Linked DNA regions of Homo sapiens: region 1 is linked to region 2. Evidence: fine-mapped expression QTL. A gene starts in region 2. The other region holds a variant in brackets. All regions are shown on one strand. Distances are from middle to middle. Region 1 overlaps TMEM41B (transmembrane protein 41B). Region 2 holds the start of TMEM41B (transmembrane protein 41B).

Evidence for each region.
Region 1: its variant is fine-mapped to the expression of TMEM41B in whole blood (TOPMed, PIP above 0.99).

What each region holds. Positions count from the first base shown.
Region 1 is chr11:9,281,308-9,297,475 of GRCh38, forward strand. It overlaps TMEM41B (transmembrane protein 41B), which reads right to left. Exons shown (of 7, transcript NM_015012.4): 3 at 13,952-14,080; 4 at 7,135-7,228; 5 at 6,395-6,499; 6 at 5,148-5,286; 7 at 1-2,286. The coding sequence ends at 2,117. Among named protein-coding and RNA genes, the nearest start is that of TRL-CAA5-1, 14 kb to the left of the region's middle. The variant A/G (reference allele first, on the strand shown) is at 7,247.
Region 2 is chr11:9,308,129-9,324,296 of GRCh38, forward strand. TMEM41B (transmembrane protein 41B) reads right to left here and starts at 6,465. Exons shown (of 7, transcript NM_015012.4): 1 at 6,193-6,465. The coding sequence starts at 6,313. It also overlaps the pseudogene PRR13P2. RefSeq lists enhancers at 5,656-6,173, 6,174-6,689, 10,319-11,295, 11,296-12,272 and a silencer at 6,455-6,804.

The sequences.
Region 1 (16,168 bases), 27 kb before region 2:
AGTCTCTGGGCAATAAGAAAGGAAGAAAGCCTTGCTAGAAATAATAAATAATCTCACGCAAAAGGCCAGGTGACATAAGAATACTACAATAATCAATATGTTTTCTTTGTATTTACAATAAAATCCATCTGTTAACACTGTGATAGAAAAAATAATCAGTCCACATCATGTAATAAAAACAGGCTTTGAGGATGATTATACCTCTTATAATAAAAACATACAAGGATTTCTCACAGCTAAAGTACTTTTCAACTTTGACAACTAATAACAGTCATGGGTGAAGGTAAAACTGACAGAGTACTTTAGATCAGCTATGTCCTACAGTCAAGGAATCAAGGGCATTACCCATTTACCAAGCAGCAAAAAGCACTTTCATTTTTCCAGAACTATTTAAATACAGTAGTTGCCATGTGATCAGTTAATTTTACTTTGTGAGTTAGATAAAGTAAAGACTAAATTGGGAAACTGCAATAAGTAATCAAAAGTAGCTCCAAACAACAAAGCCATCAATAGAAACAAAAGGCATTTTTCTAGGTGTATCATGCATAAAAAGAATAATTACATAATATTATTAAATATATTCCTTAATGACCAGATTAATAAATGAGGTAAAATTTAGTCATTGGAACAAATAAACTATATTTAATCACTTGTGTTTTGCTGTCACTGTTTAAAATAATTAACTTAATGTCTAAAAACTACATACTCTTGAATGTTTGCTTTTTAGAGCCCCTTGTGGGATATTAAAGAGCCATAACAAATTATCTGAATATAAATTATCAATACCAGGCTGGGCACAGTGGCTCATGCCTGTAATCCCAGCACTTTGGGAGGTGGAAGTGGGCATATAGCCTGAGGTCAGGAGTTCAAGACCAGCCCGGCCAACATGGTGAAACCCCGTCTCTACTAAAAACACAAAAATTAGCTGGGCACGGTGGCACACACCTGTAATCCCAGCTACTCAGGAGGCTGGGCCAGGAGAATCGCTTGAACCCAGGAGGCGGAGTTTGCAGTGAGCCGAGATCACACCACGCACTCCACTCCAGCCTGGGCAACAGCAAGACTCCGTCTCAAAAAAAAAAAAAATTATCAATACCAAATATGATACAGTTATGTAATACCCATTTTGCATATGCACAGTGGAAATACTGTAAAAACTACAAGATGAAAGAAAACCGACTGGCCAGAACTTTAAATTTCAGACTAATCCATGATAAAAATCTAGATGATAAAAAACAAAAATAAAATTAACAAAATAGATAACTTGATATCCTTTCCATATTCAGTCGTCTACTAACATGCCATCTCCAAACAAATCCATTACCTCAAAAGAGGAAGAAAATGGGCCAGGCGCGGTGGCTCACGCCTGTAATCCCAGCACTTTGGGAGGCCAAGGCGGGCAGATCACGAGGTCAGGAGATCGAGACCATCCTGGCTAACACGGTGAAACCCCGTCTCTACTAAAAATACAAAAAAATTAGCTGGGCATGGTGGCGGGCGCCTGTAGTCCCAGCTACTCAGGAGGCTGAGACAGGAGAATGGCGTGAACCCAGGAGGTGGAGCTTGCAGTGAGTGGAGATCGCGCCACTGCACTCCAGCCTGGGCGGCAGAGCTAGACTCCGTCTCAAAACAGAAAAAAAAAAAAAAAAAAAAAGAGGAAGAAAATGTAAATCTCTTTTTAAGTTTTCCAGTTTATGCTCTGAAAAAAGCCTAACATTAACAAAACCTGCAACACTACTTTAAAAAATCTAGAATTTAAAAATATCTATTTTAGTTATTAAAGATAAAAAATATTCAATTAAATTGAATGAATTAGCTGGATCAACAATTTCCTACCACACTACTATTATCTACAGCTACCCTTGGTATAATAATTTATAAGATGTCTAAGATGTCTACCTTAACTATTGATAGCACTTTTCACAGTATACCAATTTCCATTTTTACTTTCTTCTCCCCTTGTCACTTAAATGTATTACTTTAACTATCTGATAGGAAATTTTATTTTACAAATTCCTTGTTTAATTACTGAAGAGGTGATTTTAAAACATAAATGGATGCACCTGTTAATCCTGAGATGGTGATGACAGCAAAACTAAAAATCAGATGATTATTTTTACTCAAATTTCTGCTTTAGTTTTTTTTGGAAGATGGCTGGCAGAATAGAAAGAACAGCCAAGATCATCAGAATAAATATTGAGTTCCAGGAAACAGCTTCTCCTGCTGTTGTAAGTTGATACAGTGTTGTTCCTGCCTTAATGGCTACAAAAGAAGGAGGTGCGACACCTGAAATAAAATATAAAAAGATACAGTAAAAACCACCGCAATTGTTTTTAAAAAATTAAAATGTTCTGTGTGCATAAAGTTTCTTAAAACAACACAGCTATTTCCATTTTGGAAAAAAAATTAAGAATTTAAAGCTCAAGTTTATTTCCATATAAAGAATTCAATCTTTCCTAATCACCTCTTAAGGATAATGATTTTTTTTTTTTTTGAGACGGAGTTTCGCTCTTGTTGCCCCCGCTGGAACACGATGGCGCGATCTTGGCTCACTGCAACCTCCGCCTCCCGGGTTCAAACAATTCTCCTGCCTCAGCCTCCCGAGTAGCTGGGATTACAGGCATGTGCCACCACACCCGGCTAATTTTGTATTTTCAGTAGAGATGGGGTTTCTCCATGTTGGTCAGAATGGTCTCAAACTCCCGACCTCAGATGATCCGCCCACCTCAGCCTCCCAAAGTGCTGGGATTACAGGCATGAGCCCCTGCACCTGGCCAGAATAATGAATTTTAAAAACGCAAGAAAAGGGCCCAGAAAATAGTTTTACATTTATCAAAAATGCTTTTGTTTTCTCCCCCCGAGAGTTTGACTCTATCGCACAGGCTTGAGTGCAGTGGTGCAATCATCACTCATTGCAGCCTCAGTCTCTCGAGGCTCAGGTGATTGTCCCACCTCAGCTTTCTGAGCAGCTGGGACTACAGGCGTGTACCACCACACCCAGGCAAAATTTTTGAATTTTTTGTCAAGAGAGGGGGTTTTGCCATATTGCCCAGGCTGGTCTCTGTAACTCCCAGGCTCAGGCAATTCACACGCCTCAGCCTCCCAAAGTGCTGGGATTACAAGTGTGAGCCACCACACCCAGACTATCAAAAACCTTAAAAGAAAAAAAAACAGGCCCGGCACAGTGGCTCATACGTGTAATCCCAGCACCCTGGGAGGCCAAGGCAGGCAGATCACCTGAGGTCAGGAGTTTGAGACCAGCCTGGCCAACATGATGAAGCTCCATCTCTACTAAAAATACAAAAATTAGCTGGGTGTGTTGGCGCACACCTGTAATCCCAGCTACTTGGGAGGCTGAGGCAAAAGAATCACTTGAACCCAGGAGGCGGAGGTTGCAATGAGCTGAGATCACGCCACTGCACTCCAGCCTGGGCGACAGAGAGAGAATCTGTCTCAAAAAGAGAAAAAAAAAGAAAGAAACGTGCTCTGTTCTAGCAATTTCAAGGTCAAGATACTCAAAGTGTGAGTAAAGAGAGCAGTGTATACAAAAGTACATAGAGAATGATGACATTTCACTAAAAATCAAAACAAAGGGAAATAAATTACTTTGGCCAAAGCTGAAATTAACTAAATCTCTGGCTTTCACCTATAAAATGGAGATAGAAACAAAAATTCTCTCTTTAGATTCCATGGATATGACATTTAACAAAATTAAAAATTCCCCATGCTGATGTAAGTTTGTCCATTTTTTTTTCTTTTCTTTTCATTCTTTCCTTCTTTCTTTTTTTTTTTTTTTTGAGACAGTGTCTTGCTGTCGCCCAGGCCGGAGTGCAGTGGCACAATCTCGGTTCACTGCAACCTCTGCCTCCTGGGTTCAAGTGATTCTCCTGCCTCAGCCTCCTGAGTAGCTGAGACTACAGGCACCTGCCACCACATTCAGCTAATTTTTGAATTTTTAGTAGAGACAGGGTTTTACCATATTGGCCAGGCTGGTCTCGAACTCTTGACCTTGTGATCCACCCGCCTTGGCCTACCAAAGTGCTGGGATTATAGGCGTGAACCACCGCGCCCGGCTAATTTTTTTTTAAAGTAGCAATAAATAATTGATTTTGGTTATTCTTTTCAAAAAGACATATTCTCACAAGTATTAACTTAAGCTTTAATAGGTATTCAATATGTAAGAAATCTGCTCGTATTTTTGACTTCTAAACAATTCAACTCGAACTGGAAAGAAGAGCAAAACATTCCTACAAAGAATCATGAGAATTCACAAAATATGTAAGTAATTTTCATGTCCACTGATTAATTTCAAAATCAAGTATTATTTCCTTAAAAGCAAGAAAGTTTGTTGATCCTTGCTTTTTCCATACTTTTGATAACATCCGCGATAAAAGCTGGTTTCAGTAAAAGGAAAAATAGGATCAATTCTCTACTGAAAATTCAAGTTCAACATTTTAATACTTGATTAGAAAACAAAGGAGCTATTTTGCCAAAGCAACATTTACAAAAAAAAAAAAAAAAAGAAAGGGCTGGGTGCGGTGGCTCACGCCTATAATCCCAGCACTTTGGGAGGCTGAGGTAGGTGGACCATGAGGACAGGAATTCGAGACCAGCCTGGCCAACATGGTGAAACCCCATTTCTACTAATAATACAAAAATTAGCCAGACGTGGTGGCGTGTGCCTGCAGTACCAGCTCCTTGGGAGGCTGAGGCAGGAGAATCGCTTGAACCCGGGAGGCGGAGATTGCAGTGAGCCGAGATCATGCCACTGTACTCCAGCCTGGGCGACAGATCGAGACTCAGGGAAGAGGAAGGGGAAGGGACATAGGAGAAAATTGCTCAAAAAAGGCAATTTGATTTTTTTTCCTCTCCACTTAGAGGGACTGGAAGTCCTGCTTAACCCTATATCATTAAAACGATATACAGTAGAAAGTGTTCTTCTTTAAAGAGGCGACACAAAAATAACCTAAATCAACACAATTCAACAAACACTTCTGAGCATCTATTTATACAGCCAGGCTTTGTGCCCAAGAATTCTAGATGGTGCTGGCATAATCTGCAGAGAGCATGCATGTAATCTAGCCCAGCTGGACACTGTTAGATATGTACACAGTGAGCTCATACACAGCAAGAACCAGAGGGCTTACCTAGAAAAGTACCAATAAAAAAAACTTTCAATGGCACGTTTATCACAGGAGATGTGATATTAATAAACCAATTAGGCAGAAATGGTGTTATTCTCAAAAATATAATGTAGTTAATGAGATGTTCTCTATGACGTTCAACCTGTCATAAGAAAGAAAAGAATTAGCATCAGATGAGGACAACTTCAAAATAAGTTGCTTAATATAAACACCTTATTTCAAATTCTCATTCCTGATACTTCAGAGTATACCCAATAGAAATGATCAGGCTGGCGAGGTGGTTCATGCCTGTAATCCCAGCACTTTGGGAGGCTGAGGCAGGCGGATCACCTGAGGTCAGGAGTTCGAGAACAGCCTGGCTAACATGGTGAAACCCGTTTCTACTAAAAATACAAAAAATTAGCCGGGCATGGTGGCATGTGCCTGAAATCCTAGCTACTTGGGAGGCTGAGGCAGGAGAATCGCTTGAACCCGGGAGGCAGAGGTTGCAATGAGCCAAGATCACGCCACTGCACTTCAGCTTGGGCAACAAGAGCGAAACTCTGACTCAAAAAAGAAAAGAAATCATCAAAAAAGGCCAGTGGTGACTCATGCCTATAATCCCAGCACTTTGGGAGGTTGAGGCAGGTGGGTCACCTGAGGTCTGGAGTTCGAGACCAGCCTGGCCAACATGGTAAAACCCTGTCTCTACTAAAAATACAAAAAATTAGCCAGGCGTGGTGGCATGTACCTATAATCCCAGCTACTTGGGAGGCTGAGGCAGGCAGGAGAAATGCTTGAACCGAGGAGGCAGAGGTTGCAGTGAGCCGAGGTCATGCCACTGCACTCCAGCCTGGGTGACAGAGTAAGACTCCGTCTCAAAAAAAGAAAAGAAAAAAATGCACTGGGAGTTGGCTGATACAAGTGTTTCCATAACAGATGCACACAATACTGCATTAACATAAAACAGATAGGTATCTAATTATGTGGATGCCTTTATATTCACACTGACTTCTCTGCTGATTAAATTTACTAAGATAAAGAATTAAAATTACCATCACAGGTCTGAAACATTTGTATTTGAAATTATTAACATTCATATTTGCCTACCACCCATTTTTATTTGGTCAGAAGATAATTCTTATTACTTGAGTTAACTTAGGAATTAATTTATGTTGGGTTAATACATGTAGTTAATTCATGTAGGGACTAAACACAGACCTTCCAATTAACAAAGAGTTACATCAAATAATTTAAAAATACATGTTTACCTGCTGTGACCATTTTACTGCTTTCTCTGTTAGGTATTTGTATACAACTGGTCTCCCAACTAAATAGGAAAGCATATAACAGAAAGAGGCACCAAGTCCAGAACACTGGAAAACAAAAGAAGCCATAAGCGTTTTGTATTTTTCCGTCTTACTCACATTGATTTATTCACCTGAGTAAAAAGCTCAATTAATTTACTTCTTTCAGAGGTGGGGAGGGTACTCTGCATGACATCTCTTGTGCAGAGATGATCTAGTACTTTCTCAGACCAAAATGTACCTCAAATGAGATCAGCTAAAACAAACTGGCACTTGTGATTACACCTAGTGACTATATCCAAATAATTAATGCTAGGCTTTAGCCTAAGAATAAAATTTCAGGAGCCAATTTCCACCTCCCCCCGACCCTACCCCCGACCCCCCCAGTTCCTAAGCTTGAAAACACCACCTCTGGCTCTGGGACTTAACTCATTGTGCTCACCAACACTCCTTGGACTGTCGCAGTTACAAAATCCAATAGGAAAGAAAAGCTAAAACATAGCTTATAAATGCAACTAAGTCTATAATTGGTCTGTTCTGGGGGAAAAACAAATTATAACACCTCCTTGTGGAGGGACTTTAACATTAACTCCTCTTCAATTAATGAGTTTATGCTTACATAGACTAGTAGGGTTAAAGTATCATCATCATCCTCATCATTCTATTGTTTTTTCAGTCTCCCAATTTTATTTTTTCATACTTACCAAACAAACAAGAAATAAGGCTAGTGGAAAGGGATAAAGAAACCCTGAGAGTATACTGAGAAATATAGAGCCTGGAATAGCAAATGTTTGCAAGCTGGTAACTTTTAAGTTA[A/G]GGATTAGAATATAATTAAGTAGAATTTTAAAAGACAAATGTAACATTTCAGGAAAAAAGTATAAATACAAAAATTATCATACAATGAGATTATATCCAAAGGTCTAGCCTCTAAGTTGACCATTTACTAAACAGTATCATAAATACTAGTAAGTGTGTGCTACTAAAAGGTTTCCAAGACAAAAAACCGTATGTTCTAGATAGAGAGGAACCGGGCACTTTGGGGGAGGAACAAAAGAAAAAAGAAAAGGTCTTCCGTAATCTTTTAGTGCTTCTCTAATACATTTTATTTTACTCCCAAATGTTTTCAGGGAAATCATGTACATACAATTATTTCTAATTTAACTATGAAGGTTTACCTAAATTCACTACTCATTTTAAAGGAATAGGAACTACAAGAGAATAAAAGAAAATAAGAAAAATAAGAATAGAAATTACAAAATATAGTAAAAGTCACAAATCTTATTTGAGAAGGGGTCTTGCTTTGTCACCCAGGCTGGAACGCAGTGGCGCACTCATGGCTCACTGCAGCCTCAAATGCCCAAGCTCAAGCAATTCTCCCACTTCAGCCTTGCAAGTAGTTGGGATCACGGACGTGTGTCACCACACCAATTTTTATTATTTGTAGAGATGAGGTCTGGCTGAGTTGCCCAGGCTAGTCTTGAACTCCTGGGCTCAAACGATCCTCCCACAATGGACTCCCAAAGTGTTGAGGTTACAGATATGAGCGACTACACCCGGGCCACAAATCTTGTTTTTAAAATAGATTTTTTTTTTTTTTTACTTTCCTGTCGTTCCCAGTTTGGATCTGAACCTTTTTCCCCTCTAATATGATTTACTCACAAGTCAAAGTGAATTCCCTCAACATCTCTCCATCTATCCTCACTCATTAACTATTCCTTTTTCTCTAGTTCCCATTTTACTCATGTTCTCATTTCAATCTCCTCCTCCTTCCTCCTGGGTTTTTTCACCTTCAACTCTGTTCTCTTTCACAGGATGCCTCCTCTACAAAACTACTCAGTTGTCTATAACTTAAAAAACAACCTCAACCAGGGTATCCTATCCAGCTACCGCTCATCTTCACTTCCTCAGAGGAGATTCTCTCCTCGTTCCCTGTGACCTGCTTTACTATTCCACTATGCTATTGAAACTTCCTCACAGCCAATAATAACTTTTTCTCAATAGTCACCTTTCAGTGATCCCTGCATAGGATTAGACTTCATCCTGCATGAAACATGGCTTCAGTGAACTGTACTTTTTCTTCTACATTACAGGTAATTTCTTCTCTAGATTTTTCTCTTTGCCCTCAACTCTTGAAATTTCTCTAACATTCTGTTGGCCACACAATCCCTTTTCTTTGATAAATTTGGCAATTTCCATGGCTTCAAGTATCAACCACATATAGTACTAAAAACTCGAAATTCTCTTTGGTTCATCAGCCTCAAATTTTCCACCTGTCTCCTACATGTCTCTGTCAAAAACAAAACACACACACACACACACACACAAACACACACACTTTTTGGGTTAAGATTGTACTATATGGACCGGGTGGGGTGGCTCATGCCTGTAATCCCAGCACTTAGGGAGTCTGAGGCAGGCGGATCACAAAGTCAGGAGATCGAGACCATCCTGGCCAACATGGTGAAACCGTCTCTACTAAAATACAAAAAACTAGCCGGGCGTGGTGGTGGGCACCTGTAGTCCCAGCTACTCGGGAAGCCAAGGCAGGGGAATCGCTTGAACCCAGGAAGCAGGAGATTGCAGTGAGCCGAGATCTCGCCACTGCAAGCCAGCCTGGCAACAGAGCAAGACTCCATCTCAAAAACAAAACAAAACAAAACATCATATTATGGATAGTTTCACACATATGTAAATGTAGAAATACTCAATGTAAATGACAAGTTGATGGGTACAGCAAACCAACGTGGCACACATATACGTATGTAACAAACCTGCACGCTGTGCACATGTACCCCAGAACTTAAAGTATAATAATAAAAAAAAAAAAGAAAGAAAAGAAAGCAAGACTCCAAAGGATGAAAGGAGATAAATGGAAATTTTCCCTTGAGGAAATTGAGAGAAGCAGAAATAAATGAGGACAAGTTCCCAGGAAGTGTTTTGTTGTTTTTGTTGTTTAACGCAACTGTATTTTTTCCTTTCCCAAAATTTGGTGCAATTCCTACTTCTCTGAAAAGGAAACCTAAAATTACAGCTGAAATTGGGGAAAAAAAAACAAAGTAGAGAAACTAGTGTTATGATGCCCTATATTAACATATTTCAGGCTGGGCACCGTGGCTCCCGCCTGTAATCCCAATACTTTAGGCAGCTGAGGGTGGATCACTTGAGACTAGGAGTTGAAGAACAGCCTGGCCAACACGATGAAACCCTGTCTTTAATAAAAATACAAAAATTGGCCAGTCACAGTGGCTCATGCCTGTAATGCCAGGTACTCAGGAGGCTGGGAAACGAGAATCTCTTGAACCCAGAGGGCAGACGTTGTAGTGAGCCGAGATCATGCCACTGACCTCTGGCCTGGGAAATAGAGTGAGACTCTGTCTCAAAAAAAATAAAAATAAAAATAAGGCTGGGCGCGGTGGCTCATACCTGTAAATCCCAACACTTTGGGAGGCCAAGGCAGGTGGATCATGAGGTCAGGAGTTCAAAGAATACAAAAAATTAGCCGGGCGCAGTGGCAGGTGCCTGTAATCTCAGCTACTTGGCAAGCTGAAGCAGGAGAATTGCTTGAACTCGGGCAGCGGAGGTTGCAGTGGGCCGAGATCGCGTCGCTACACTCCAGCCTGGGAAACAGAGTGAGACTCCCATCTCAAAAAAATTATAATAATAATAAAAATAAATTTTTTTTTGAGACTGAGTCTCGCTCTGTCGCCAGGCTGGAGTGCAGTGGCATGATCTTGGCTCACTGCAACCCCTGCCTCCCAGGTTCAAGCGATTCTCCTGCCTCAGCCTCCCGAGTAGCTTGGATTACAAGCGTGTGCCATCGCGCCCAGCTAATTTTTTTTATTTTTAGTACAGACAGGTTTCACCATGTTGGCCAGGATAGTCTCCATCTCCCGATCTCGTGATCCACCCCGCTTGGCCTCCCAAAGTGCTGGGATTACAGGTGTGGCCACCACGCCCGGCCAATTCCTTTTTTTTTCCTTTCGTTTTTGTGGTAGGAGTCTCGCTCTGTCGTCCAGGCTGGAGGGCAGTGGCGTGATCTCAGCTCACTGCATTCTCCGCATCCCAGGTTCAAGCAATTCTCTGCCTCAGCCTCCCAAGTAGTTGGAATCACAGACGCCTGCCACCATAACTGGCTAATTTTTGTATTTTTAGTAGAGACAGGGTTTCACCATCTTGGTCAGGTTGGTCTTGAACTCCAGACCTCGTGATCCACCTGCCTCGGCCTCCCAAAGTACTGGAATTATAGGTGTTAGCCACCGTGCCTGGCCTCCTTTTCTTTTTAACATAAATATGATACCATTGTCAGACTTCAAGAAATTAACTATAATTCCTTATTGTCCTAAAGACTAGTCTGATCAGAATCTAGAAGTCCACACAAAGTATTTGCTCAAAGGATCACTTAAGCATAGGGTCTTTATTTTTTCTTTCTTTCAATTTACTGAAGAAACCAGATCATTTGTAGAATTTACCATTTATTGAATTTTGCCTATTGGATACTTAGGGTAGTTTATGTTCTATCCTTTATCTTATACTAGTAGTCAAAACTATGCTTCCTTTTAAATGGGAATGTGACTTGAGCTTAACTTTGTTTAGATTTCTCTTCTCTTACACTGAAAAATCTTGGTTCTTGATAACACCAACATAGTTGCCTATTTGTGCTTTATATACTATGAAACATAAAGTAAATGTATAAAATATATACTATGCATTAGTATTAATAATCTAAAACGTTTCCACATATTTAAATATTTTACAACATTATTACTACTAACAATATGATGACTAAAAACAGTTTTAAGATTTTTGGCTAGGCCTGGTGACTCACACCTGTAATCCCAGCACCTTGGGAGGCTGAGGTGGGAGGATCACTTGAGCCCAAGAGTTCCAGTTCGAGACCAGCCTGGGCAACATGATGAAATCCCATCGCTACAAAAAAATACATGAAGAGACGGGATTTCTTCATGTTGGTCAGGCTGGTCTTGAACTCCCAAACTCAGGTGATCAGCCTGCCTCGGTCTCCCAAAGTGCTGGGATTATAGGTGTGAGCCACCACACCCGGCCCTGATAATACTATTCTTAATTTTTGAGGAACTGCCATACTATTTTCCATAGTAGCTGCATCATTTTGCATTCCCACCAACAGTGCTCAAGAGTTCCAATTTCTCCACATCCTTGCCAACACTTGTTATTTTCATGATAGCCATCCTAATGAGTGTGAGGTTGCTTTTGATTCTTAAGATTCCTGCTATTCTCTTTTTTCATTTTGATTTTGTAATTATGTAAAACATTTACTTGGTTCTCAAGTCAAACCTACGCTAAGAAAAGTTTCAGTCCTACCATTTTATCTCTCTCCCTACAGGTAAACATTTTTACTGGTTTATTTATTTGAGATACAGTCTCACTGTCACCTAGGCTGGAGTGCAGAGGCTAAATGCTTCGCTGTAGCCTCAACTTCCCTGGGCTCAGGTGATCTTCCCACCTCAGCCTCCCAAGTAGCTAGGACTACAGGCATGTACCAAGACATCCAGCTAATTTTTGTATTTCTCGTAGAAACTGGGTCTAGCTACATTGCCCAAGCCAGTCTCGAACCACTGGCCTCACGCAATCCTCCTGCTGAAGCCTCCCAAAGTGCTGGGATTACAGGAATGAGCCACTACACCCGGCCAATTAGTTTTTTAAGAAAAATATAACAAGATACTTATGTATATGAGTGTACTCATATTATCCCCTTCTTAGATAAAACACAGCATATTTGTGTACTATTTTGCCCTTTGTTCTTTCACTTATCTGTATATTGTGAGTTAATACCTCAACAACATATGGATACTTCTGATTCTTTTTATTTTTGTTATTTTTATTTTTTGGGGATGGAATCTTGCTGTCACCAAGGCTGGAGTGCAGTGGCACGATCTCAGCTCACTGCAACCTCCACCTCCTGGGTTCAGGTGATCCTCCTGCCTCAGCCTCCTGAGTAGTTGGGATTACAGGCATGCAATCACCACGCCCAGCTAATTTTTGTATTTTTAGTAAAGATGGCGTTTCACTATGTTGGCCAGGCTGGTCTGAACCCCTGACCTCACGTGATTCACCCGCCTCGGGCTCCCAAAGTGCTGGTGTTGCAGGCATGAGCCACCATACCTGGCTACTTCTGATTCTTTTTAAATAGCTATATAATATCCCAGTGTTGTCAGGCGTGGCGGCTCATGACTGAAATCCCAGCACTTTGGGAGGCTGAGGAGCTCAGGAGTTCAACACCAGCCCAGACAACATAGCAAAACCTGGCATCTACAAATAAATCCCAAATTTAACTGGGTGTGCCTGTGGTTCCAGCTACTCGGGAGGCTGAGGTGGGAGGATCACTTGAGCCCAGGAGGCTGAGGCTGCAGTGAGCCATGATCATGCCACTGCACTCCAGCCTGGGTGACAGGGGGAGAACCTGTCTCAAAAAAAAAAAAAAAAAAAAAAAAAAAAAAAAAGCCGGGCACAGTGGCTCTCACCTGTAATCCCAGCACTTTGGGAGGCTGAGATGGGCAGATCACCTGAGGTCAGGGGTTCCAGACGACCCTGGCCAACATGGTGAAACTCCGTCTCTACTGAAAATACAAAAATTAACCAAGTATGGCGGCAGGCGCCTGCAATCCCAGCTACTTGGGAGGCTGAGACTGGAGAATCGCTTGAACCTAGGAGGTGGAGGTTGCAGTGACCAGAGATTGTGCCTCCAGCCTGTGTAACAAGAGCAAAACTCCATCTCAAAAAAAAAAAAAAAAAGTTGGTTTAAAAAGGATGATTACTTTTACAACATCAAGAAGTAAATTACGTCTTTCATTAACTGAGAAGATCTGGAAAACAGTTTGGATAAGAATAAAAGATATTAACAAATCAGAAATGAAAATTAAACTCCACAATATGCAAAATTAAGCACCCACAGCTAAGCAGTTTGAAATAAAGCTATTTTCCTGACTAGTTAAAATGTAATATATTTCTATAAAATATATATCAAAAATTGTAAAAAACATTCATTCCTTTGAATAAGTATCTTAAGAATTTTTACAAAAGAAACAATGCAAGAAAAAAACATGAACAAAGGAGATTCATAATACATATCTATAAAAATTAACAACAAATTATACCTCCAAACCTAACAGAACAATTATAAAAATACTATGGTGACTACTAATTCAAAATAATTATATAAACTAGTATCATCAGTTAATGAATACAATTATAAATCAAACCCATAAAATAAACATCTTAATAATATGCAATAAAGGAAAATGTTTGGTAAGTGAAAAAAGCAGAATACAAAAGAACTTCTAATAAATATTCAGACATAAAAACAATTAGTTCAGCAAATAGGATTAAAGTGATAATTTTTTTCCATTTTAATTTTTCAATTATTTAATATTGTCACACTGCAATAACAAATTTTAAAAGGAAAATAGTTATGTATAAATGAAGAGCAGACCTTTTACACTTTTTCTTGAACAAAATTAGAAAACATTTTTTCAGTTAAAAGGATACAAAATATATGTAGCAAAATAAGCTACAAGTACTTGAACATAAAAGGTGTCCTTGTATTTGGATAAAACTTTTCCTAGAGCCTTGGCATCATCCATATCTCTGGGAACCTTCATATTCACTCTTTCTTCTCTGAAGAAATAAAGTGAAAAATTTTAGAACAGAATTTTGCCAAGATAATATCAAAGTCAAGTTCACAACATGAAGTTTTATCCAAAATGATTTCATGCCTTGATCTATTAAGTCTAAATTAGCAATGTTTAAGTTTAAAAGTTTATAATTTTTCTTTTGTTTTGAGACATAGAGTCTTGCTCTGTTGCCCAGGCTGCAGTGCAGTGGTGGAATCTCAGCTCACGGCAATCTCTGCCTCCCAGGTACAAACGATTCTCCTGCCTCAGCCTTCTGAGAAGCTGGGATCACAGGCGTGCACCACCATGCCCAGCTAACTTTTGTATTTTTAGTAGAGAGGGAGTTTCACCATGTTGCCAGGCTGGTCTCAAACTCCTGTGCTCAAATGATCCTCCTGCCTCGGCCTCCCAAAGTGCTGGGATTACAGGAGTGAGCAACCGCACCTGGCCTATAAATTATTATTAATTTCATTTTATTTTTATTATTTTTTTTGACACAGTCTCACTCTGTTGCCCAGGCTGGAGTGCATTGGCGCGATCTCGGCTCAGTGCAACCTCCACCTCCTGGATTCAGGTGAGTTTCCTGCCTCAGTCTCCCAAGTAGCTGGGATTACAGGCACGTCCCACCATGCCTGACTAATTTTTGTATTTTTAGTAGAGACGGGGTTTCACCATGTTGGCCAGGCTGGTCTCAAATTCCTGACCTTAGGTGATCCACCCGCCTTGGCCTCCCAACGTGCTGGGATTACAGGAGTAAGCCACCATGCCCGGCTATAAATTATTTTTTAATGCTTTAATATAATTTCATGAGACAGGCAATTTTTTCTTTTTAATGTCTCAGCAGAATCAGAGACAGGTAATTTATATATGAAGGCTCTGGATGACGCAAACCAAGGGTTAAAGGCATTTGTTCCAACATCGAAACAAATTTTAACTTGAATATAAGAAATGAACCACTGGCCAGGCACATGGTGGCTCACGCCTGTAACCCCAGCACTTTGGGAAGCCGAGGCGGGTGGATCGCCTGACATGAGGAGTTCGAGACCAGCCTGGCAAACGTGTTGAAACCCCGTCTCTACTAAAAATACAAAAATTAGCTGGGCATGGTGGTGCATGCCTGTAATCCCAGCTACTCAGGAGGCTGGGGCAGGACAATCACTTGAACCCGGGAGGCAGAGGCTGCAGTGAGCCTCCAGCCTGGGCAACAGAGACTCCGTCTCAAAAAAAAAAAAAAAAAAAAGAAAGAAAGAAAAAAAGAACCACTGATGTTAGTAAATTAAAAACATTTAACATCATTTTGGGTAATCCTGATGATAAACTAAATAATAATTTACAATGAAAATTAAGTAAAAATGTAACAAATTCACAGTTCAAACATTTTCTTGAATACCACAGATCAAAGTCCACAAAAAACTGCAAGTTTTCCAGTACTTTTACTCTATATTTGGCACTTTGTTTGGAACTGAATGATTTCTTGCTTAGGAAAGCCTCGAATAATCACCTTTGTGTTTCATGCATATTATGATCATTTCTTTTTTTTTGTTTGTTCTATAGGCAGGCTCCCATGCTCTGTCACCCAGGCTGGATGGAGTGCAATGGCACGATCATAGCTCAATATTACCTCCATCTCCTAGGTTCAAGTGATCCTCCCACCTCAGACTACTGAGTAGCTGGGACTGCAGGCACGTGCCACTATGCTCTGCTAGTTGTTGTTTTTTTTAGATAGAGTCCTGCTCTGTCGCCCAGGTTGGAGTGCAGTGGCGTGATCTCGGCCCACTGCAAGCTCCGCCTCCCAGGTTCACGCCATTCTCCTGCCTCGGCCTCCCAAGTAGCTGGGACTACGGGCGCCCGCCACCACGCCCAGCTAATTTTTTTATTTTTAGTAGAGATGGGGTTTCTCCACGTTAGCCAGTCTGGTCTCAAACTCCTGACCTCACGTGATCCGCCCACCTTGGCCTCCCAAAGTACTGGGGTTACAGGCATGAGCCACCGCGCCAGGCCGCTCTGCTAATTTCAAAATTTTTTATAGGCTGGGCGCAGTGGCCTAGGCCTGTAATCCCAGCACTTTGGCAGGCCGAGATGGGTGGATCAC
Region 2 (16,168 bases):
TTGAAGTCAGGAGTTCCAGACCACACTGGCCAACATGGTAAAACCCTCTACTAAAAATACAAAAATTAGTTGGGCGTGGTGGTATGCGCCTGTAATCCCAGCTACTGGGGAGGCTGAGGCATGAGAATCACTTGAACCTGGGAGATGGGGGTTGCAGTGAGCTGAGATCACGCCACTGCACTCCAGCCTGGGCAACAGAGCAAGACACCGCACCTGGCCAACCTTGGACATTTTAAATCAATAAATCATTAAGATGGAGAACTTGCTAAATAAAATATTCCATTCCTTGCCTTTTTCTTCCATGAGCTTACTTCTTCCATTTTCTCCCTTCTGTTGGACTCTTCATTCTCTTCCTTCCATGCCAGCCTGGACTCCAAGAAGTATCATCTGAACTAGCACCTTTGACTGAAATCCTTATTCTTTCCTTATAGCCACCTAACCAAAAATCAGCACTACAAATTCACTTTCTTCCTTCCTACATCACAATGGTTTAGCACAAATACAGAAAAATCACTGAGTGATCCATCACAGAAATCCATGTCATTGGGAAAACTGATTTAGCTCTATTCCTACTCTTTCTTCTACATGTAGAATATGAATCAGGCTGAGCCAATCAGGTTACTCTGATGACCTACTGACAATAATGATAGGTTCAGGAAAAAGCATCTGATCTGAGGCAATCTAATCAGTGAATAGCAAGACTTCATCCGTAATACTAGGACAAAGATTCTCAAAATTAACATGGAAGCATTTAGCTTACCTGAAGCTTCAAGGGGAACCAAACTTAAGGTTAAGCTGACATCAAATAAGCAAATCAAGATATGAAAAATCTGATCCTGGCCGGGCGTGGGGCTAACACCTATAATCCCAGCACTTTGGGAGGCCAAGGCGGGTGAATTACTGGAGGTCAGGAGTTCAAGACCAGCCTGGCCAACACAGAGATAACCCGTCTCTACTAAAAATACAAAATTAGCTGGGCGTGGTGACGTGTGCCTGTAATCCCGGCTACTGGGGAGGCTGAGGCGGAGAATCGCTTGAATCTGGGAGGTGGAGGTTGTGGTGAGCCAAGATCGCACCATTGCACTCCAGCCTGGGCAAAAAGAGTGAAACTCCATTTCAAAAAAAAAGAAAGAAAGAAAAATCTGATCCTGAAGATGCTGAGCAACTGGCTCCAGCCTGATGCCACCAAATCCTACTCATTACTTGATTTACTTACATGGACCAATAAGCTCCCTTTCAGCAAGGGTTCCAGTGGGTTTTCTGTCGTAGACCAAAAAAATTCTGATACATAATACCTGGGTTGAGACTGACATCAGCAAACCATACTAATGCTTTGGTTGATATTCAGCTGCCAAGTCTAGTCTTAGATTTCATCTACAGTAATCAGAGCTTCCTTCTTTCTGTAAGCCAGTACTTTGCTCATAGTAGACACCTGAGGAGTATTTGTTAAACAAATAGCAAGGCAGGATCTAGACCAGGGATCTGGATTATCCAAGTCAGAACAATATTGTCAGCCAGGCGCAGTGGCTTACACCTGTAATCCCAGCACTTTGGGAGGCTGAGGCAGGCAGATCACAAGGTCAGGAGATCGAGACCATCCTGGCTAACATGGTGAAACCCCATCTCTACTAAAAATACAAAAAATTAGCCAGGCGTGGTGGTGGGTGCCTGTAGTCCCAGCTACTTGGGAGGCTGAGGCAGGAGAATGGCGTGAACCCGGGAAGGGGAGGTTGCAAGTGAGCCAAGATCGCACCACTGCACTCCAGCCTGGGTGACAGAGCAAGACTCCATCTCAAAAAAAAAAACAAAAGAACAAAAAAAAATATTGTTTTCTAGAAGCAATAAAATCAACTTTGAGACAGTGTTTTTCAATCTTTTTTGATTGTGTTCCAAGTAATGTATTATTATTATTATTATTTTTTTTTGAGATGGAGTCTCACTCTATCACCCAGACTGGAGTGCAGTGGCGCTATCTTGGCTCACTGCAAACTCCACCTCCTGGGTTCAAGTGATTCTCCTGCCTCAGCCTCCCAAGTAGCTGGGATTACAGGTGTGCACCACCATGCCCAGCTAATTTTTGTATTTTTAGTAGAGACAGGGCTTCTTCATGTTAGTCAGGCTGGTCTTGAACTCCTGACCTCATGTTCCGCCCGCCTCGGCCTCCCAAAGTGCTGGGATTACAGGCATGAGCCACCATGTCAGCCTAAGTAATGTACATGACCCGGTATACACAAAATCTATATAACTCAAGGAAAGATTAAACAAAAAAAAACCAGCATTTAATCCCAAAGCACTGATATTTTCTCTTCTATTCCATTTTTTTTAAAAAAATGCTTATTATTGATTATCCATCAAATTGATTTCACACCCCTCACAAGGGTCATGACTTATATATTGAAAAACATAGTCCAGCTCTCTTAAGTTAAAATGGAGAACTTGCTAGTAAATACATAGGTCGGGGCAAACACCACCAAAAAAGTTATGTACTCTAGTCCAGTCACCTTCAAACCGATTAGGTTAAGAGCCCTTTTTTTTTTTTTTTTTTTTTTTTAACCAGGAGAAATAACTTTATTTGGACTGAGAGCTGGAGAACAAGAATAGGACCTGAGATAGCATACTGGGCTAAGGAGGAGAGGTAAGGTTCCAAAATGGCAGTCAAAGCTCATCGACCAAACAGACTCTACTTCCCAGCAACCTTGCAGTTAGTGCAACCAACAAAAGGCCTGCTGGGGAATGTATTTTCCACTAAATTCCCCAAGTATGCCAACATTACAAAAAAGATAGAGGTTTTTCATCATAATTAAATTTCCACAATCCTCCCCAATCATGAGTATTATAAGCAGAAGTAAAAAATCACATTTTACAGATCTCAAACTTGTCTTCAACATTTAGTTCATCATCTTCAAAAAACAGCTCCCCTGCTAAACTCATTAGCTATATGATCTATCCAAGCAACAACAAGATGGCCAGGCCATGCCAATTCTCTTCCCATTTTCCCTAGCCACTCAGGGCTCAACAGCAGGGTGAAGCTCAGGCGGGGGTAGGGTGTGGGGAGCACAAGGGCTACTTTCCCCCAATACAACATGGCATCTGAAGCTTGATAGGAGAGCAGAACTGGTGAGACTTGAGGGAAGGACCCAGGGCCTGTATTCAGTCAGAATCACTGCTGGAAGAGGAGGAGGAATGCTTGCTATGCTTGTGCATCTTTTTATGAGCTTTCTTCATTTTCTTCTGTATCTTCTTGCCCACTATCACTGCTGGTCCAACCATGCCAGGAGCCAAGGGACTCACAGGAGGCATTCCAGGAGCAGACGGTGGGTATGGAGGAGGGTAGGGACCCGAGGATTGGCATCCTGGATACCCTGGCTGTGGCACAGGATGAGGGGGCCAACCTGGGGGGAAAGCTGAATTGCCTTGCGGAGCTCCTGGGGGAGGAGGACAGGGGCCTGGGGGAAAGGGTGGGTTGATAGGTGGTGAGTGGGCAGGATTGGAACCTCCAGGGCACCCAATGTTGGGTGGATATGGATTTGGCCCTGGCTGCCTGGCACTGGGATTCCACATGTTTAGGTGTGTCCTCCAGCCTTTCCACTGCTGCCTGGGCTTGATGCATTCTCAAGAGCTTCTTAACTAGTTTCACCTCCTGTCTGCTCTCTCATCTTCATCATGCAAAAATTAGACTTTCCGTGTTACCTCTGCCTTACTCAAGTAGTCAAAGTGGTCCACAGTCTACTAGGCTTAGCTCTGAGACTAGAGGCCAGAGTAATGGCAAGGAATCCACTAAATGTACCAAACATTGCAGATAGCATGTAAAACAGTTCAAACATACATATGATGATAACTACTTATTTGTCAAAGTTATATATGTGTCACTTAATAGAATACAAATTCATTTCCAAGTATCATGGAATTTACAGGAACATTCTGACACATCCTGAACAGGCCAACCTCATCGCCTACTACCACCCAACAGAAACCCTCTGCTCCTGACAAATTAATCTCCCTACCCACACACATAAAAGTTTCACACTAACCTTCAACCCTACTACTCTCTTTCTCCTAGCCTGGAATACCCTTCCCTTCTCTTTACTTATCCAAACCTTACTTATCTGGCAAAGCACAATGGCTCATGCCTGTAATTCCAGCATTTGGGGAGGCCAAGGCAGGAAGACGCTTGAGCCCAGGACTTCAAGACACCCTGGCCCCTTCTCTACAAAAAACAAATAATTAGCTGAGCATGGTGGCACACACCTGTAGTCAGCTATTTGAGGGGGCTGAGGTGGGAAGATCGCATGAGCCCAGGTAGCTGAGGCTGCAGCAAGCTATGATCATGCCACTGCACTCCAGCATAGGTGACACAGCGAGGCCTTGTCTCAAGTCACTAAAAACAGGCCTTACTTCATCATGAAGTGAAGGCACGCCTTCACATCTCTTCCCTGTCTTCCTATAGATTTGTGATCTATAGATGTCATGGGACAGCATCATAAGAATAATTGTAGGCCAGGCGTGGTGGCTCACGCCTGTAATCCCAGCACTTTGGGAGGCCGAGGCGGGCGGATCAACAGGTCAGGAGATCGAGACCATCCTGGCTAACAAGGTGAAACCCCATCTCTACTAAAAATACAAAAATTAGCCCGGCGTGGTGGTGGGCGCCTGTAGTCCCAGCTACTCGGGAGGCTGAGGCAGGAGAATGGCGTGAACCCAGGAGGCGGAGCTTGCAGTGAGCCAAGATTGCGCCACTGCACTCCAGCCTGGGTGACAGACCGAGACTCCGTCTCAAAAAAAAAAAAAAAAAAAAGAATAATTGTGTTGAATGTTTTGTTGTAATGATAAAATAAGATTAAAAAGTAAGAGCACTTTGGAAGTTTCAAGGTTTTATTTTTTGAATAGCTTTAGGTAAAAATCATGAATACAACTGGCTGCTACCTCAAATGAGATGTCAATTTTTAGGGATGCCCTATCTGGAACACTTTTTCAGGAAACCCAGACCTTGGAATATTGTCACCCTCAGTAGTAGAGTCTTCAAAACAATCTTTCTTTTATTCAGAGCTGATTTATACATTAACAACGATTCATTTCTCAGTTTTTGAAATTATATGAAGTCACCTGGATCCAGTGTATATAAGCTGGAAAAATACCCAAAAACATAAGGCTGACAGAGCCAAATTAGACTGTTGGAGACATTTTAAATTATTTGAAAATACATTAACATTTTCTACTACATACTCTTAGAAGTTCTCCTAGCCATCACTGGTGGTGGAACACACCTATGTGAGCTACAGACAAACTTGTTAGGATCACTTTAAGTTTATGAGCTTTAAAATCATTTAAAGAACGATTCCAGGCCAACACGGAATCAAAGTATTTAGTTTCTACGTACAGTTTTTTCCTTAAAACAATATTTAAAGCCGTGAGATTCTGCAATTATAGAGGCAGTAGGAATAAAGAGAAAACAAAAACCAAAAATAAAGCCGTGAGAAATGTCAGGATGATGTAGTGGGGAAATAAACTTTAGAATGAGTGACCTTAGCTGTAACTAAGTAATTGCTAATATTTATTTAGCCCCCACTTCATATCCAAGCATTGCTCTAAATCTTTTACGTGAATTATTTCGTTTAACCCACGCACCACCTATTAAGTAGATATTATTATTATCCCCATTTCACAGTTCAGACACTGAGCTTTTTTTGAAAGTTACCAAGTCCAAGGTTCCAAGTAAACAGTAGGGCAGGGACTCAAGCCCAGGTGTACTGCCACCTGGAAGTATTAAGTCCTCGCTCCTAACTACTACTTCACTGATCTGGCTTTATGACTTTATAAGTCATATACCCACACTGGGCCTCAGTTTCTTCATCTGTAAAAACAACGCAGCGAATGCCACAGTACAGCTCCTTCCAGCTCTGCCTAGCGTCGTTATCATCAACCTTACAATCTACCTGAGCGTCAACAAGCCAGTGTCATCCCTTCTTTTAAATGAATTCTACTCAAACAGCATTTACAACGCACCTACTCGGCGTCCGGCCTTGTGCTGCGCGAGCGCCCAAGCCCAACTCCCCCACGGTCTCTGCTCCCGCCGCGGCGCCAGCAGGCCCCCCTCTTTCCCCGCGACTCTCCGAGAATAGCGGGGGTCCTTTTCCCCACCCGACACACAGAAGCCTCGGGCCACCCCCAGCTCTGCTCCCCGGGCCCACTCACCCTTCTGGTGGTCTCTGCTGCCAGGCGCCGCGAGACCCCGCGTCCCCGCTGCCCCGTCCCCCACGGGGGTCGTGTGGTGAGCGCCCAACTGCGATCGTTCGGCGACTCTGCCTTTCGCCATGGCTGCTGCAAGGTGAAGGGAGCGGTGCGGTGCCGCGCCCCCTAAACAACAAAACTCTGTTGCAGGCTCCTTACTACGCCGAAGCGCCACGGCTAGAGCCACTTCCGGCGCGACCTCCTCACCCGAGACGACCTCAGCCCAGCGAGTACTGCAACCTCCTGCAAACACCCGCAGCGCCCACCACAGGCTAAACCCCGCCCCGTGCCGCCCCCGAGCCTCGCGTGCTCGCGCCGGCCCAGTAACCGCGAGACAAGTCAGGGTCCTGGACCGCCCCCTTCAGTGCCCCGCCCCGGCCCGCCCGCGGGAAAGAGGTGGCCGCCGGGCGCTGGGGCGAGAGCATGCGCAGTCGCGGCACTCGAGTCACCCGGCTGCGACTCGCTGGCCCTGGCGTCTAAAGCGTAGCCTTAATTACCCGGAAGTGCGGTCCCAGGGACTTCAAACCTTTTGTCCAGGCCGCCGGAGGTGCCTGTGATTAGTCGGCATTTCGCGGCTGAGGCTGATTCAGCCCATTACATCAATTCCGCAGCTGCTGTCTTCAATTTGGAGGCGCCAGAGAGTGCTTGATCTAAAAGATGGTGGGAAATACAAAGGTTGAGCAAAACCTACCTGAATTTCAGGAAACTAAGGCTCAGAGAGGGCTACGTACAACCTGTGAAGATCACAGGATGGCAAAAATGGGCTTAGAATCCAGGTTGTCCTGTTCCCAAAGCTAACGGTTTTGCATTAGCTGCTGCCCCTTACTACTAAACCCAAGTCAGCTCTACATTTAGCTTATCCCTAAGCTAAGCGGAAACATGCCTTTTCCACAGGTAACTTTTTCTGCTTCTACCCCTCAGAGCACATTCAGCTTACTCACCGTGGTTACCTCTTGAAAGCAACTTAGAGGCCGGTCGCGGTGGCTCAAGCCTGTAATCCCAACACTTTGGGAGGCCAAGGCGGGCGGATCATTTGAGACCAGGAGTGTGAGGCCAGACTGGCCAAAATGGTGAGATGAGACCCCGTCTCTGCTAAAAATACAAAAATGAGCTGGACATGATGGCTTGTAATCCCAGCTACTCGAGAGTGTGAGTCAGGAGAATCGCTTGAACCCCGGAGGCTGAGGTTGCGGTGAGAAATTGCACCGCTGCACTCCAGCATAGACCACAAAGCAAGACTCCGTCCCAAAAAAAAAAAAAAAAAATCCTGATTGTTTCTATTCAGTAATTACATTTGTAGGAAATTATTCCATGAAAATAAACATAAATAATTCCTCTGTATTAGTATAACAGTGAAAAACTAAAAGCAATATAAAAATCCAACACTAAATAAAAATGGTTAAGTAAATTATGGGAAACCCATTCAATTGAACTGTTTTATGTACACATCCTTTGCCTACTTCTGGCTCCCATTTTATTTCCTTCATAGTCATTAAAAGCAATTAATTCTGTGAACTATTTGTTTACTTGTTTATTGTCTGCCTCCACCTTTAGAATATAAGCTTTAAGGCAGGGGCTTTGTCTTTTTGTTTTTTGTTTTTTTAAGTGATGGGAATCTCACTATATTGTCCAGGCTGGATCTGAACTTCTGGACTCAAGGGATCCTCAAGCATCAGCCCTCTGAGTAGCTGGGACTACAGGCTCCATGCTATGGCTCCCAGCTGGGCTTTGTCTTTTTGATCACCATTGTATCCCCGGTAGCTGACAGAGTGCCAATACCTAAGTGGCCATTCAATGAATTTGTTGAATAATTTTTTTTTTTGAGATGGTGCCCAGCCGAATAAATTTTCAATCTTAGGAAATTATATTTATGGGCCAGGTGCCATGGCTTACACCTGTAATTTCAGCACTTTGGGAGACCAAGGTGGGCGGATCACCTTGAGGTCGGGAGTTCAAGTCAAAAAAAAAAAAAAGAAAACATTTTATATATTTTACTATGCAAACATTAAAAATTGAAGTACAACAAAAACTAAAAACAAACACTGAGAAGTATTTGACACATAAGAATTACTACAAATCAGTAAGGAAAGCACAACTCAACAGAAAAATGGGCAAAGAATATGAATTATCAACACACAGAAGAAAAAATTAAATGTGCTTAAGACATCTGAGTGCGCAGTGGGAAAGCCAACTCCAAAACTTAGGAAATTCCAAAAAATTAGGAAAAGATGAACAACCTCAGTGCAGTGTGATAAGAGTGACTGAGGGGTGCGCAGATTGCAATAGCAGAAGAGAGGAATATCTAAATTACAGTGGGGCTGTAAAGTCTCCCAGGAAGCAGGATTAAAACTGATTTTTAGAGGATGAATAGGAATTAACAAAGTTGAAAGCAGAGAAAATAGCTTTTGCAAAGGCTAGAAGCTACTGCTTATATTAGAAAAAAAGCTTCAAGCAAAGGGTGGGAGAATGGAAAGAAATGCTACGAAAGATATGAGACCAGGACCTTATCACAAACTGCTAAAAGTTTGAACTTAATCCTCAAAGATATTTAACCAGAGAGGGACTTAGTAAGATTTGTATTTTTGGCCGGGCACATTGGCTCACCCCTGTAATCCCAGCACTTTGGGAGGCTGAGATGGTTGGATCACCTGAGGTCAGGAGTTCAAGACCAGTTTGAAAACCCGTCTCTACTAAAAGTACAAAAAATTAGCTGGGTGTGGCCGGGTGTGGTGGCTCACGCCTGTAATCCCAGCACTTTGGGAGGCCGAGGTGGGCGGATCACGAGGTGGGGAGATCAAGACCATCCTGGCTAATATGGTGAAACCCCGTCTCTACTAAAAATACAAAGAATTATCCGGGCGTGGTGGCAGGCGCCTGTAATCCCAGCTACTCAGGAGGCTGAGGCAGGAGAATGGTGTGAACCCAGGAGGCAGAGCTTGCACTGAGCCGAGATCGCGACACTGCACTCCAGCCTGGGTGACAGAGCAGGACTCCATCTCAAAAAAAAAAAAAAAAAAAAAAAAAAAAAAAAAAAAGCTGGGCGTGGCAGCGGGCGCCTGTAATCCCAGCTACCCGGGAGGCTGAGGTAGGAGAATCGCTTGAACCAGGGAGGTAGAGGTTCCAGTGAGCTGGGATCGTGCCATTGCACTCCAGCCAGGGCAACAAGTGTGAAACTCCGTCTCAAAAAAAAGATTTGAATTTTCAAAGCTTATTCTGACCGCCTTATGGAAGTGTGCCAAATCAACAGCAGAAAGAGAAGTTAGGAGATTACTGCAATAATCCTGGCCTGACCTAGCATAGTGTACTGGAGACAAAAAGAAGATACCAGATATAAGATTATGTATGAGAAGAACTATCTCTAAACTTTTATTACTTTAATTACATGAATATATACATAGTCATTCCAGACAAAATTTTTTTTTTTTTTGAGATGGAGTTTCACTCTTATTGCCACGCTGGAGTGCAATGGCATGATCTTGGCTCGCGGAAACCTCCGCCTCCCAGTTCAAGCGATTTTCCTGCCTCAGCCTCCCAAGTAGCTGGGATTACAGACATGTGCTACCACGCCCGGCTAATTTTGTATTTTTAGTAGAGGGGGGTTTCTCCATGTTGATCAGGCTGGTCTCGAACTCCCGACCTCAGGTGATCTGCCCACCTCGGCCTCCCAGTGCTGGGATTACAGCCGTGAGCCACCACGCCCCAGCCTCCAGACAAATATTGAAAAAGCAAATTATCAGACAGAAAAACATTAAGTCCAGGCAGGGTGGGTCATGCCTGTGATCCCAGCACTTTCGGAGGCTGAGGAGGGCGGATTGATTGGGCTCAGGGGTTTGAGACCAGCCTAAGCAACATGGTGAAACCCTGTCTCTACAAACAATACAAAAAAGCCGGGCATGGTGGCAGGTGCCTGCAATCCCACCTACTCAGGAGGCTGAGGTGGGAGAATGGCTTGAGCCCAGGAGGTGGAGGTTGCAGTGGGCCAAGATCATGCCATCGCACTGTAGCCTGGGTGACAGAGCCAGACCCTGCCTCGAAAAAACAAAAACATTAAAATCATGTCTAATATGTTAGCAGCAGCAAATCCGTACGGGTCTGTAGCAACCTCAATTCTTGCTTCCTCAGAAGAATTCGACCGAAGGGCATAAGGCAGAGTGAGAAACCAAGGCAAGTCTTAGAGGAGTGAAAGTTTATTAAAAAGCTTTAGAGAAGGAATAAAAAGAAGCAAAGTACACTTGGAAGAGGACCAACAGGTGACTTAAGAGATCAAGTGCACGGTTTGACCTTTACTTGGGGTCTTATACATTGGCCCAGGGTTATTTCTCCCCTGATTCTTCCCTTGGGATGGGCTGTCCACATGTGCAGTGGCCTGCCAGCACTTGGGAGGGGTTACATGCACAATGTCTTTACTGAAGTTGCACATGAAGGGGTGGGTTGCCCCTCCACACCTGTGGGCATTTCTCATTAGGTGGAACGAGAGACTTGGAAAAGAAAGAGACACAGAGACCAAGTATAGAGAAAGAAAAAGGGGCCCAGGGGACTGGCGTTCAGCATGTGGAGGATCCACGCCGGCACCAGCCTCTGAGTTCCCTTAGTATTTATTGATCATTATCGGGTGTGGCAGGATAATAGGATAATAGTGGAGAGAAGGTCAGAAGGTAAACACGTGAACAAATGTCTCTGCATCATAAACAAGCTAAAGAAAAAAGTGCTGTGCTTTTGATGTGCATATACATAAACATTTCAATGCCTTAAGGAGCAGTATTGCTGCCAGCATGTCCCGACTCCAGCCCTAAGGTGGTTTTCCCCTATCTCAGTAGATGGAATATACAATCGGCTTTACACCGAGACATTCCATTGCCCAGGGACCAGCAGGAGACAGAAGCCTTCCTCTTATCTCAACTGCAAAGAGGCGTTCCTTCCTCTTTTACTAATCCTCCTCAGCACAGACCCTTTACGGGTGTCGGGCTGGGGGACGATCAGGTCTTTCCCTTCCCATGAGGCCGTATTTCAGACTATCACATGGGGAGAAACCTTGGACAATATCTGGTTTTCCTAGGCAGAGGTATTGTGTCTCTGGGTACTTGAGATTAGGGAGTGGTGATGACTCTTAACAAGCATGCTGCCTTCAAGCATTTGTTTAACAAAGCACACCCTGCACAGCCCTTGATCCACTAAACCCTGAGTTGACACAGCACATGTCTTAGGGAGCACAGGGTTGGGGGTAGGGTTACAGATTAACAGCATCTCAAGGCAGAAGAATTTTTCTTAGTACAGAACAAAATGGAGTCTCTTATGTCTACTTCTTTCTACGCAGACACAGTAACAATCTGATCTCTCTTTTCCCCATAGCACACATGCTCACATGAGGCAGTTTTTCCTTTACCAGTCCAGTGTTCCTAGAGGAAGGTCATACACAACTTAAATTCTGCCATTTTGCTTCTTAGTGTGCATACTTGAGCCGGAGATGTTACCGAGAAGCTGCCAATCATCAGTTTCAGGGTTTTTTCTATTTGTTGGGAGACTGCCTTTCCCTGGTGCCAGCTGCGACCAATTATTGTTTTAGGAAGGCAGTTTAATGGCCACCTGACCAACAACTGATGGTCACCTGACATTCCTGGTGAAGTGGAGAGGCCCTCTCCTGCCCTCTCATGTCTGATTAGCTACCTTCTGTAACAATACCACCATCCATAGATAATTGTAATATTGGGATTTATCCTCCTGGGATATTAAAAAATGTTAAAGAAGTAGAATCTAGAGGATTTAGTGTCACTTAATATCCTTAGACAAAGATGTTAGTCAGAGGGGAGGCACTAGGTGTTTGGAGAGTTTCTGGTTTAGGAGGTTGAATGTGATACCAGTGGGACCACAACCCCAGCCAGTGTGTAGGCTCTAGATATTGCAGGAAGGAATTCAAGGATGAGTCAGAAAATAGTGAAAGTACGGAGACTTATTGCAAGGTGAAAAGTACACACTGAAGAAAGGGGAGCGCAGGTGTACTCAAAGAGTAGTCGCCCAATAGAGTTTGGGATTTCTACCTTTCTGGGTTTCTTTAACCAAAGGGTGGGATATTCATGAAGATTCCTGGAAAAATTCCTGGATTTTTCAGAAATGTGGTGCCACCCATTTTTATACCAAATTTGTTCCTGGAACCGTCAGGGGGTTGGTGGGTGTGTGATTATGTTTTATTGTTTTTGTTGTGGGTTTTTTTTTTTCTTGACAGAGTCTTGCTTTGTTGCCCAGGCTGGAGTACAGTGGTGCGATCTCAGCTCACTGCACCCTCTGCCTCCCGGGCTCAAGCGATTCTCCTGCCTCAACCTCCCAAGTAGCTGGGACAATAGGTGAATGCCACCACACCTGGCTAATTTTTGTGTTTTTAGTAGAGATGAGGTTTCACCATGTTGGCCAGGTTGGTCTCGAACTCCTGACCTCAAGTGATCTGCCCGCCTCGGCCTCCCAAAATTCTGGGATTACAGGCGTGAGCCACCACGCCCAGCCCAGCCAACATTTTCTATTCTTCTGCCACCAGCCTGTATTATTCCTGTCTCACTAGGAATAACGGCGGTAAGAGACCACAGGAAGAGGAGTTGGATTAAAGGAAAAGTTGTTAAATTTTGTTGTGATGGTCTTGAACTCCTGGACTCAGCAATTTTTCCGCCTCAGCCTCCCAAGTAGCTGGGATTACAGGGATGAGCCAATACCACACCTGGCCTCTCGGATACTTTCTATTCTTACTTCCTGACTCCTGCCACCTTTTCTCAGCTAAAACTTCTCTTATTATGGTAACCAATGAGCTTATTTTTGTTGCCTTCAGTTAGTTTCTAGTTATTTCTCCTCTGCATTGCTTAATCCATTAACTGTTCCATCCTTCATGGTTTCCATGATAGTTCTCTAAACACTTGAAGGAAACTCTTCTTTTCCCTACTGCTTAAAGGCCAATATTTCCCCCAGGGTATCCACTCTGCCATGCGATAAGAGTCAATGACTCTCATTGCAAGGCTTAGTGGCTCACGCCTGTAATCCCAGCACTTTGGGAGGCCGAGGCGGGTGGATTGCTTGAGGTCAGGAGTTCAAGACCAGCCTGGCCAACATGGTGAAGCCCTGTCTCTACTAAAAATAAAAAATTAGCTGGGTGTAGTGGTGCACGACTGTAATCCCAGCTACTCGGGAGGCTGAAGCAGGAGAATCGCTTGAACCTGGGAGGCAGAGATTGTGGTGAGCCCAGATCGCACCATTGCACTCCAGCCTGGGAAATAAGAGCTAAACTCCATCCAAAAAAAAAAAGAAAAAAGAAAAAGAAAAGAAAAAAAAGAGCCTATGACTCTTTCTTTCTTTTTTTTTTTTTTTTTTTGAGACAGAGTCTCACTCTGTCGCCGAGGCTGGAGTGCAGTGGGGCGATCTCAGCTCACTTGAACTTCCGGGTTCAAGCGATTCTCCCACCTCAGCCTCCCAGAGTAGCTGGGACTACAGGCGTGCGCCACCATGTCCACTGCTTTTGGTTATTTTATTATTATTATTTTTGAGGCAGAGTCTCGTTCTGTGGCCCAGGCTGGAGTATGTTGGCACCATCTTGGCTCACTGCAACCACTGCTTCCCGGTTTCAAGCAGTTCTCCCGTCTCAGCCTCCCAAGTAGCTGGGACTACAGACCCGTGCCACCACGCCTGGCTAATTTCTGTATTTTTAGTAGCGATGGGGTTTCACTATGTTGGCCAGGCTGGTCTCGAACTCCTGACCTCATGATCCGCCCGCCTCAGCCTCCCAAAGCGCTGGGATTACAGGCGTGAGCCACCACGCCCGGCCTCACCTATGACTCTTTCTAGGCAACATCTAGGTCATGACTTCAACAACCGCGTATTATACACAGATGACAAATGTTTATCTTAAATGCCAGAATGATATACATAGAACTTAATACACATTTACGCCAGGGTGTACCACGAACATCTCAAATTCAGCATATCCAAATCTGAAATGAATATATTACCTCTCAAACTTTATCCACTCCCTGTATTCACAGACGTTGCAGATGACACCACGAGCTCCCCTTTTGCTCAGGCAAATCTAAGAATTCTCATTTAACATTTGTTAAATTCAACTTGTGAAATGAATGAATGAATTCCTTCTTGTCCTTTGAGAAAAGAAAAACTTTTATCTGAGAAATGCAAGTCCTTTAAACTGTCAGGCCCAGAAAGACATTCAAATGAGACCCCAATCATGTCCTACTCCTCCCTTACAAGCTATGTATTCTTCTCCTGAAACTGCCTGCAATTGCCACAAGTAGCTATAAAGTAACCTAAAAATGATGCACTGGACACAAATAATCCGCACACTGTAGTTTAACAATGTATAGCCAATCACTAATCAATGTTATGTGTGTAAACCAATGAGAATTCCTGACAAACAATTTTGCATCAGACTGCTCCCTGTCCCCCTCTTTTACCTTAAACAAAACCCTACTTGTAACAAAGCCTGGATGGAGCTCATCTCCAAGGTTACTTGTGTCTGAGTCTTCTGGGCAGCTGTCCTCACTTGGGCTCAAGTAAACTCTTTATATTTTGTGCCTCAGCCTCTTCCTTTTAGGTCGACATATTCACACCCCCATCCATTCAAATGCCAGGTCCAGGCAGGTCTCCAACTCCTTACTCTTTATTTGTTTGTTTGTTTGTTTATTTACAGAGTCTCACTCTGTCCCCCAGGCTGGAGTGCAGTGGCATGATCTCGGCTCACTGCAACCTCTACCTCCCGGGTTCAAGCAATTCTCCTGCCTGCCTCAGCCTCCCAAGTAGCTGGGATTACAGGCGCCCGCCACCACGCCCGGCTAATTTTTTGTATTTTTAGTAGAGACGGGGTTTCACCAGTTGGCCAGGCTGATCTCAAACTCCTGACCTCAGGTGATCCACCCGCCTCAGCCTCCCAAAGTGCTGGAATTACAGGTGTGAGCCACAGTGCCCAGCCTCCTTACTCTTTCTTTATTTAGATATCATGATTTCTCTTCTTATTCACCTCTAATCAGTTTTCCATATTGTTGCTAGAGCGGTCTCCAAGAAATAATCTTGGGCCGGGTGCAGTGGCTCACACCTGTAATCCCAGCACTTTGGGAGGCCAAGGCGGGTGGATTGCCTGAAGTCAGGACTTCAAGACCAGACTGGCCAACAGGGTGAAACGCCATCTCTACAAAAATACAAAAATTAGCTGGTTGTGATGGCACATACCTGTAATCCCAGCTACTCAGGAGGCTGAGGCGGGAGAATTGCTTGAGCCCAGGAGGAGAAGGTTGCAGTGAGCCGAGATCATGCCACTGCACTCCAGCCTAGGCAACAGCAAGACTCTGTCTCAAAAAAGAAAATAATAATAATAATAATAATAATAATAATAATAATAATAATCTTGAAGCCCTTCATGATCTGACATAACCTCAAATGATCCAGCTGACTTTGAATCCAACATGAATGAACAAATGAATGAATGAGTGAAACAATTTTGAACCACATGTAGTAAGTACCCTGAACATGTCATACTCATTTGTGTTTCTGTGTCCTTGCAGGAGTTAACTCTTTGCCTTTAATGTCTTTTTTTTTTTTTGAGACAGAGTCTTGCACTGTCGCCCAGGCTGGAGTGCAGTGGTGCGATCTCAGCGCACTGCAAGCTCTGCCTCCCAGGTTCACACCATTCTCCTCCCTCAGCCTCCTGAGTAGCTGGGACTACAGGTGCCTGCCACCACGCCCAGCTAATTTTTTGTACTTTTAGTAGAGACGGGGTTTCACCGTGTTAGCCAGGATGGTCTCGATCTTCTAACCTCGTGATCTGCCCACCTCAGCCTCCGAAAGTGCTGGGATTACAGGTGTGAGCCACCGCACCCAGCCTGCCTTTAATGTTTTCTGCTTAGTGTTTCCTAAGATCAACTACTGCTTATCTTTGAAGAGTTGACTTAAGGTCAACTCT